Regions from separate parts of the Homo sapiens genome. Here regions 2 and 3 are each reported to be linked to region 1. Evidence: microRNA targets listed by miRTarBase, many of them from high-throughput screens and not tested one by one. Region 1 holds a microRNA gene; each other region holds the end of a gene's coding sequence.

What was found. Region 1 holds the annotated microRNA hsa-miR-582-3p (UAACUGGUUGAACAACUGAACC, at 792-813, shown strand). A microRNA usually pairs through its seed, bases 2 to 8, with sites in the 3' UTR of a target mRNA and lowers its output. Matches are read on the target gene's strand: a 7mer-m8 pairs with bases 2 to 8, a 7mer-A1 pairs with bases 2 to 7 and ends in A, and an 8mer does both.
Region 2: the mRNA of ARHGEF39 is a reported target of hsa-miR-582-3p. Seed matches in the 3' UTR shown: 7mer-A1 at 657-663.
Region 3: the mRNA of SCN4B is a reported target of hsa-miR-582-3p. Seed matches in the 3' UTR shown: 7mer-m8 at 2,018-2,024.

The regions. Positions count from the first base shown.
Region 1 is chr5:59,701,443-59,704,442 of GRCh38, reverse strand. It overlaps MIR582 (microRNA 582), which reads left to right and starts at 740; the gene lies at 740-837. The region is part of intron 1 of PDE4D (phosphodiesterase 4D); the gene reads left to right.
Region 2 is chr9:35,659,317-35,662,316 of GRCh38, forward strand. It overlaps ARHGEF39 (Rho guanine nucleotide exchange factor 39), which reads right to left. Exons shown (of 9, transcript NM_032818.3): 8 at 2,863-2,951; 9 at 27-2,686. The coding sequence ends at 2,671. It overlaps CCDC107 (coiled-coil domain containing 107), which reads left to right. Exons shown (of 5, transcript NM_174923.3): 3 at 1,085-1,145; 4 at 1,241-1,331; 5 at 1,430-2,195. The coding sequence ends at 1,871. Among named protein-coding and RNA genes, the nearest start is that of CCDC107, 2.5 kb to the left of the region's middle. RefSeq lists a silencer at 2,436-2,730.
Region 3 is chr11:118,133,907-118,137,252 of GRCh38, reverse strand. It overlaps SCN4B (sodium voltage-gated channel beta subunit 4), which reads left to right. Exons shown (of 5, transcript NM_174934.4): 5 at 133-3,346. The coding sequence ends at 226. Among named protein-coding and RNA genes, the nearest start is that of SCN4B, 17 kb to the left of the region's middle.

The sequences.
Region 1 (3,000 bases):
AATCTGTCCATGGCAGAAAGATTAGTGATTTGAGATATGGTGTCATCATTGTAGATGATGGTGTCCCATTAAGCATGTTTTCACTAATTACAATAAATGTTGAAAGAAGGAGTTTCACCTAGTATCCTTACTAATATCAGGGAATGGCCTGGGCTTTGGGGAGATGAGAGTCCTCTGCTTTCAGTTTAATAAAGTAGGATATTTGTGTTTTTGTTTATATTGTTAAATACGACGGGTTAGCTTGTCACCTACATAATATTGTGTGGCATAAATAAAGGTGAATTCCCAAATATGTGCTCCATAGTGTTGACAATGAGTAAATGTTCATTCTAATAATTGTAAGGGTTACCTCCCTCGCACTCCTTGAAATATCTTTTTATTCAAATTTTTCGAGCTGGAGGTCATGTGTTACATTTCCTGTTGTGTAACATGGCCTCCCTCTCTTTCTCTGTCTCACTTTCTCACTTTCTCCCTCTTTCTTTTACTCTCTCTGCCTCTACCTCTGACTCCTTCTCCTTCTTCCCAGCTTTGCATCAGAGCCATGTAACTGACATTTTCTTGGTTCCCTCAGGACCTGTCATAATAGCAGGCAAATATTAGATGATGATTCAATGTTTAATGAATTTTTCTTGAATGTATGTATGTTGCTTCAAGTCATTCATGCACACATTGAAGAGGACAGACAGAGCCCTGCTGAACACCACTAGCAAATCTCTCTCTAGTAGACCACAACAAGTCAATCTGTGCTCTTTGATTACAGTTGTTCAACCAGTTACTAATCTAACTAATTGTAACTGGTTGAACAACTGAACCCAAAGGGTGCAAAGTAGAAACATTTCATTGTGAAGTCGGCTGGGGACAAAGAAAACACCACCAGAACCCCCTTCAATATGCAAAGGGAAAATTCCTTCTCAAGTACAAGCTACATGGTGCCTTTTTGAATTATCATCAATTTGTAATGCTGTATCAATACATATGTATTATCTGTTCTTTTGGTAAGGGTTGTTTGAAGTATAAGGTACTTCCTCCATTAAGGTGATACTAACCACATGTTAATTATTGTCTGAAAGTCACCAAGGATATGAATAATAAAAAGTTTTAAAAATAAGACCTGTTTCTTTTATTGATAGTTGTACCTCAAGGCTGAAGTGAGGTTTGCAATGTAAGTTGTAAAATGTGATGTGAAATAGACAATTCTTTGTAGTTTATATAAGGCAATATATCCATGTGCAATTATGGTCAAAAACAGCAGACTTTTAAGTGATTATTCTAAAGTTATTTTTTTCCAAAATAACTTTATTACTCTTGATATCATACCATATTCACAAAACATTCTGGTAAAGCTATTGCTCAGTGTGTTGTCCCAGTGAGACTCAGGGAACATTTCTATGTGACGCTTTAGGATTGAAGACAGTTCCACGTTTTCTGAGTAATTCCAAACTGTGTAAGAGATTATGTTCCCTTTGCATATTGGCTGCTAAGAAGCTCACTTTTTCACTTATGATACTTGGATGCATTTTGGCTTTTTGGGTTTTTGTTTTTTGGTCTAATTTTTTTTTTTTTTTTTTTTTTTGAGACAGGGTCTCACTCTGTTGCCCAGGCTGGAGTGCAGTGGCACCATCATGGCTCACTGCAACCTTGACCTCTCCTGGCTCAGGTGATCCTCCCACCTCAGCCTCTCAAGTAGCTGGAATTACAGGCATGTGCCACAACACCCAGCTAATTTTTGTATTTTTTGTAGAGATGAGGTTTCGCCATGTTGCCCAGGCTGGTCACAAATTCCTGGACTCAAGCCATCTTCCTGCCTTGGCCTCCCAAAGTGCGGGCATTACAGGTATTAGAGGTAGGAGCTACTGCATCTGGCCATGGGAAACATTTTGAATGATAACTTTGTTTGTTTGTTGTCTGTTGAGCAGGCTGGAGTGCAGTTGCATGATCACGGCTCACTGAACTCTTTCCTTTAATTTTTTTATTCTCTCAGCACGATTATAATTTATTTTAAAAGTAGGGAATAATTGGCCAGGCGCAGTGGCTCACACCTGTAATCCCAGCACTTTGGGAGGCCGAGGCAGGCAGATCACAAGGTCAGGAGATCGAGACCATCCTGGCTAATATGGTGTGAAACCCCGTCTCTACTAAAAAATACAAAAAATTAGCCGGGTGTGGTGGTGGGCACCTGTAGTCCCAGCTGCTTGAGAGGCTGAGGCAGGAGAATGACGTGAACCTGGGAGGGGGAGCTTGCAGTGAGCCCAGATTGTGCCATTGCACTCCAGCCTGGGCGACAGAGTGAGACTTCATCTCAAAAAAAGAAAAGCAGGGAATAATTAGTAAGTGCCTAACTAATCAAAAATTGTTTCCAGGTGATGTTGCTGTTGATGTATGAAAACCTCTTTCACCTAGCTTCCCTCTTCATTCTTTTCTGTCATATTTCTATTGACCAGTGCTTTCTTGGCCCTTGGAAATGTGATTAACTTTTGCCATGACCTCTATGTTAGTGCCACACCTGACACCTTTATGCCACTCTCTGCCTCCAGAACTCTGTGTCCATCTTATATGTTTTTACCTTCTGCTGGGCCTCAGGTCTGGATGCAAAGCTGTAGAGGAATTGAGCTGTTTTTCACAAGGGATCCAAGAACACATAGCATGTGTGAACTGTACTAAAGCTTTGAGAAGTTGTGAAGAAGATTCACATCAACTATGCACCACACAGCCTTCTTGTCTTGCTGGTACCATCTCCTCACCTCTGTGTTGCTCCTCTTGGAGTCTTCACCTTCCACAACCAGCACTTCTATTCTCACTGTCTGAGTGTGACTTTCCATAATTGTGAAACTCCTTGGGCTTATCCCTCACACTCATTCTTGAATTCTAAGGAATGGCATTTTCTCCATTGTGCTTACATTTGCTTTTCAGTATTAATTGTTCTAGAGAAAAGCATTCATTCACTCACTCACTCATTCACTCATTTAACAAAACCTGTATGGGTATCTACAGTACTATGTT
Region 2 (3,000 bases), not on the chromosome of region 1:
AATGACCCCAGGTAGATGTGACAGGCTAGGATGAATGACTGAATTTAATGATGAACTTTGAGAAGGATAGACTAGTAAATTCTGTTCTTGGACCTGAGTACAGTCTGGGAGAAACATAATGTAGCAGGAGGTCTTATGAAAGAGAGTTAGGCATTCCAGTTGACTGAGTTCACTGTGGGATGTGACAAGCCACTTCCCAAATCAGTGCTGGGAACATGGCACTGTGCTTCACCTGCCAATCAGAATGCCCCTGGAGAATTGTATTCTCCTCAGGGCATTGCTTTAAGAGCACTACGTGTTCAGGAAACAACCAGAGAAAACCACCGTCAATGAGCACTGACTGTAAAGACTGACGTTAATAAACCAGAAAAAACTCAGGAAAGTGGGTGAGGGTGTGACCATTGCCTTCAAATTCCTGAGGGGCTGTCACCTTGAGGAGACATTATTTTGGAAGGCTCCAGTAAGCACTATGGAAAGAAGATACATAAAGGACAAATTTTGGCTTTGTGCATGAACTGTCTAACAACCAAAGTTTTTGTTTTTTTCGAGATGGAGTCTCGCTCTGTCACCCAGGCTGGAGTGCAGCGGCGCAATCTCGGCTCACTGCAACCTCTGGCTCCCAGGTTCAAGCGATTCTCCTGCCTCAGCCTCTCAAGTAACTGGGATTACAGGCACCTGCCACCACGCCCGGCTAATTTTTGTATTTTTAATAGAGACAGGGTTTCACCGTGTTGGCCAGGCTGGTCTCAAACTCCTGACCTCAGGTGATCCACCCACCTTGGCTTCCCGAAGTGCTGGGATTACAGGTGTGAGCCACAGCACTCAGCCACCAGAGCTTTTTTCAAACCGGAGGGAGTTGCTCATTCCTGGAGGTGTTTCAGCAAACTGACCATGTGTGGGACATAGGACGTCGCTTCATATGCTGGGTGAGGAGCTAGATAGACTAGGATTGTGATTCTCTGAGGTAAAAACCCAATCACTGTCTCCATCTCAAATTGCACTCTCTCTTGGCTGGCTCTGGAGACTGAGGTGATGGAGCAGAACCTTGTTGCTTCAGTACTGCCCTTTCCTTCTTCCACAACAGGGGAAAGATGAAACTGCGGTTCTCCACGAGGAGGCAAGCAAGCAGCAGCCACTGCAGTCAGGTGGGTTTAGCAGAAGTCTGTGCTGGGTCGGGGGAGTTTAGGGGACAGCAGAAGATACATAACCACTTCTGCCCCCTTTTTTCCCTTATCCCCAGAGCAACAGCTGGCCCAGTTGACACAACAGCTGGCCCAGACAGAGCAGCACCTGAACAACCTGATGGCCCAGCTGGACCCCCTTTTTGAGCGGTGAGGAGAGCAATGATTCTGTGAATTTTTGGGGAATTTGTGGCAGGAGGGAGGAATGGGGACATAGGTTGGGAGCCACTGAGTGGACATTTCTTCAGTGTGACTACTCTGGCTGGAGCCCAGCAGGAGCTTCTGAACATGAAGCTATGGACCATCCACGAGCTGCTGCAAGATAGCAAGCCGGACAAGGATATGGAGGCTTCAGAACCAGGTGAAGGCTCGGGAGGCGAGTCTGCTGGAGGTGGAGACAAAGTCTCTGAAACTGGAACATTCCTGATCTCTCCCCACACAGAGGCCAGCAGACCTCTTCCTGAGGACTTCTGTTTAAAGGAGGACGAGGAGGAGATTGGTGACAGTCAGGCCTGGGAGGAGCCCACAAACTGGAGCACAGAGACATGGAACCTAGCTACTTCCTGGGAGGTGGGGCGGGGACTACGGAGAAGGTGCAGCCAGGCTGTGGCAAAGGGCCCCAGTCACAGCCTTGGCTGGGAAGGAGGGACGACAGCTGAAGGTCGACTAAAACAAAGTCTGTTTTCATGATGGAGTGCTCCTGTGTGTTTTTTCGATCCTAGTTGGTTGTACACACCCATACTAGGTGCCTAAGGACAACTGGGCCTTCTTGAAGAGCTGTCCTTATTAGGACAAAAAGAGGCTGCCTTCCAGTGTGACAGCAGAGAAGATAGAGGGAGCTCCAGCTCTTTTCCTCGTATTCCTGAGGCCACCAGCATGCCCGCGTTCAGGGCCCAAAAATCCCTTTTCTCATAGCAAAACTGAGACAGAAGGGTCTTTCCCAAAAAAAAGAAAAAAAACTTTACTCAAATCCAGTGGAAAAATAAATGATAGAAACTATACACAACATAAAAATAGCCACATTTACAAAGCTGCAGCCTTGATAAATGACGGGCCATGGACACAGCACAGAGCTTATCAGTCCCAAATCCCCTCATCTGTGTTAGGGGCTGGTTCATTTGAGGTTTAGTTGGGTTGGACTTGGTTTCCTGATTCTTCTTTTTTAATAAAATTTCTTAATTATTTTTTCTTAAATAGAGACAGGGTCTCACTCACTGTGTTGCCCAGGCTGGTCTTGAACTCCTGGGCTGGAATGATCCTGCCACCTCTGCTTCCCAAAGTGCTGGGATTACAGGCATGAGCCACTGTGCCTGGCCGTGATTTTTAAGAGTTGGTCAGATGATCTGGAGTAGCTTGGTCCAGGCAAACAGAAAGTGACCTTTGTCAAATCATGAAGGGTTCTGTTTTGTTCAGTACTGAAGATTCCTTTGTACTCTTGGCTGTGACCTATCCCTGAGGTATCCTGAGTTCTGGAATCTATAAGATTCCTCTAGTTTTTCTGGCTGCTGTGGAGAGAAGACAGTCAGTTCAGGCACTGGTATGAGTGCTTTATTCAGACAAAATCATCTGGGGGTTGGTGGCTGGGGTGTGCCAGACCAATGTAGGGCATGAGACAGGAACTGCATATTTCCTGCTTGTGGGCCTCATCACAGCACCCTTCCTGGGGGAAGACACAACTTACCTGATAGCCCAAGTCAGACTGTGGTACCAGCGTGACAGCTCCTCCTGGTCTGTGGACATAAGCAGTAGCTTCTCATGAGGGAAGGACAGCTAGAGAGAGACCACCTCTTAGCGCATGGCTCAGAAAGGTCCAGGCTAA
Region 3 (3,346 bases), not on the chromosome of region 1:
TCTGGCTACCTTAGCTCTGTAGAAGGCCAGGGAGAGGCACAGGGCTGGGTGCAGGGCCCACGGCTCCTGCCACAATTCTCCCCCTACTCTTGCTCCTCTCCTCACCACTGTCCCTTCTCTCTCCCTCTCCAGGAAGGAGTGTCTCGTGAGCTCCTCGGGGAATGACAACACGGAGAACGGCTTGCCTGGCTCCAAGGCAGAGGAGAAACCACCTTCAAAAGTGTGAGCCCTGCTTCGGGCTGAGCAGCTGCAGGGAGCCCCCTTTCTGATGATGAAACTGATGCTTGAGCCCCGACCGTAGAACCCACGTGCCTGAGACATCTGCTGCTTGGCTCAAACTGTAGTCTTTCCGGGCACAAGAAACCAGAGTCCTGCCCAGCCTGCCCATCCCCTTCCCAGTCAGGGCTCCCCAGGGACAAGGGATGGCCAGGGGAGGGGGTCTGTGGAAGATTCAGGAGAAAGAAAGGAGAGGCTAGGGTGGTGTGGAGGGGCTGGTCCCCTGACACCTGGGCAGATGGGGTCTCCTTCAGTCTCCCTACCCTGCACAAGCAGGGCCTTGATTTTCCTCCAGGCTTCTCTTCACAAGAGACTGGGAGGATCCGTAAGGGATGTCCTAAGAGCTGCACCCTGGAGATGGGGTGTAGGAAGAAGTGGCTTCCTTTGGAGGTGGGAGTGGGCTGGAGGCCTCTGGAGAAGACCTGGGGTGGGGGCTGATGGGGGCAGGCCCACAGTGAGAGACTGCCTCTGCTTCATAGGATACCAGATCCCCCACAGTCTTCCAAGTAGGAAACTTCCTTTCCCCTGCCCCGGGACCCTATCTGCCTATCCCCTCCCCTGCTCAGAGTTTTTAAGCCCTCTCAACCAGGGCTGGCCACCCTGGTCTTGAGGGTTCCTGGCCACCTAGCCTGCTCCTCTGCTCTCTGGGTTACTGAGGGGCTCAGGAAGGGGCCCCTCGAGCCTTCCTGGAGTACCCGAGTGCTCCCTATGCCTTTCCAAGCATTTCTACTTGGGGAATTGGGCCACAGAGGTAGTGAGCCAGTGTCCTGGGCCTCTGGGATGCCCGCCCCATTGCTGCCAATGCTGGCAGCCCCTCCCCTGGCATGGCAGGACCATCGCCACTCTGGGCACTCCTGAGCCCAGCTCTCCCCTGCTTCTCCCCCTCCTACCTGAGAGGCTGCACCCTCCAACCTCCCATTGGCTCGCTCCCCCCCCCCCACCGTGCCCTCCATCACGCCCTGCCCCCAGGGTGGTTCATTTCCCAGCCCTGGGTCAAGGGCCTGCCTTCGCCTCAGGGACTCTCTTCCTTTGGATGAGGGGGTCCTTGGGTTTCCCAGCTGCTTCCTGCTCAGCTGGGCCACCCCCTCCCACCCTGGGGTTGGGGAGGAGCAGGGAGTGGGTGCCCACAGTTTTCCTTTGCTTCTCCCAGAGCTGGTTTGCACAGCCCTTGTGTGTGGGGCTAGAATGTGCCTTAGTCCTGAATCCTAGCCCTTACCCCCATCCTCTCTAGACGGTATGTCCTGACATAACAGCAGAGTCTGGTGTGGTGCTGGTGAGGGTTCGCCAGCCCTCCCCTCCCCAGGGTCATAGAGGGGGCCATGAGGCTGGAATTGGCCAGTGACTGAATCTTGGAGATGTCGGCCAGGTGCTCCCATTGGGGTTTCTAGCCTGCCCTAGGGGGAGGTGGTGATGTTGGGAGTGGGATCTCCTGAGTCCTTGTTGGGCAGAATTGGTGAGGCCAGGGATGGCAGGGAAAAGTGGTAACAAGCCTCTCTGCCCATCTACTTCCAATCCCTCTCTCCCTTACTGATTTTTTGATGCCCTGTCTTCTGGGCCCCTAGGAGGGATGAGAGAGGAGTAGCCCCCTTTTTCAGAGAGTTTGGGGTCTACCTCAGAGCTCTCCCTGTCAAAAAGCAGCTGCAAGCCTCGCAAGGGTGGAGTGGGGGGAGACTGAGGACCAGTAGTACCTGCAGGGTGCCCGTGGCTGTGGCCAGTGTCCCTTAGCCAACCTGCTGGGCTCACCAGTTCCCCGTCTGATCTGCCTGTGCGCCTCCCATTCTTCTCTACCCAGAACCTGTCATGGGCTGGGGCTCAGATTTTCCTGGCTTTGGGAGCAGACAGACCAGAGCCACCAGCCATTCAGAAAACTTCTTATAGCTACCTTCATGCAAAACTGTTTTCTTCTTCCTTCTCAATGGTGACATTTGAAGAGGCAGAGCACCTTGGGGCTCCTCCTTCTGTCTTAAGAGAAAGCCAAGGCACGTAGAGTAGGGAGAAGAAGGGCACCATCCTCTCTTTCCTCCCCAGGGTCTACTGCTGATTTCTAGATGGATCATGCAGCTTCTCTCAGCTCAGCTCTTTCCATCTACCAAATGGGTGTAATAATACTTACCTACCTCACAGGACTGTTGTGAGGCTTGGCAAGTTTTGTCTAAAAACATCTTTTTGGCTTGGAAAGGGATCTGGGAAGCCAGGTATTAATTGCAGGGATAGTTCCAAGTCTGTCCTGTCTTCATCTCTGTGTCCCATCTCTACAACCCACATACAGACACACACACTCTCTCTCTCTTTCTTTCCATCCCACCCCCCTTGGAATTATTTAGTCTTTGCAATATTAGAAACCTTGACTCTGATGCTTAAAGCTTCTTGTCCATGGCTTTTGTTTGATGGTTTTCAATAGAGGTGACTGAGATTGTAGGGGGGGCATTTTTGGTTGCCCCCATGCGTGGGGGCACTACTAAGAATGCTAAACTTAGTCCCCACAACAAAGAATCATCCTGTCCCATGTCAACATTATACCCATGGAGAAACACTGGCATGGATTTGCACTAGGATGTATATGGGCAAAGCTATCTTCCCCAAGTGGAACCTCAGTGCATGCAAATCTCTGATGGTGGCTTCCAGGGCTTGTGGGCTAGAGAGAGCCACTTACAAAGTCGATCTTGAGAGACCTGGCCACATGCAGCTGGGCTGAGTGATGTCAGCGAGACTAAAGACAAAGTTCTGAGCTCCTCATCAACTACAAAATATGAAATCAGCATTCCAGGTTCTGGGCTTCTCCCCATGTCGTAATTGAACAGAAGGCAGCCCGAATAAACCCCTGATGTTAGAGAGGCCTGGGGAGAGCAGCCGATGGGGCTCAGACTACATATGGCAGGCCGATCAGAGCTCTTGTGGAGCGAGGGCTTGAGAGCATGCTTGTGAGATGGCAGGAGGTGGGGTGTGCTTGTGTGGAGTGTGCGTGTGCAGGCAGTGTGGGTGCATGGCAGCGTAACTGTGGAGTGGATGGGCTCTGCATGTAAGGGGTGATGCATGATGGGCAGATGCTGGACATTTGAGGAGCCGTCTT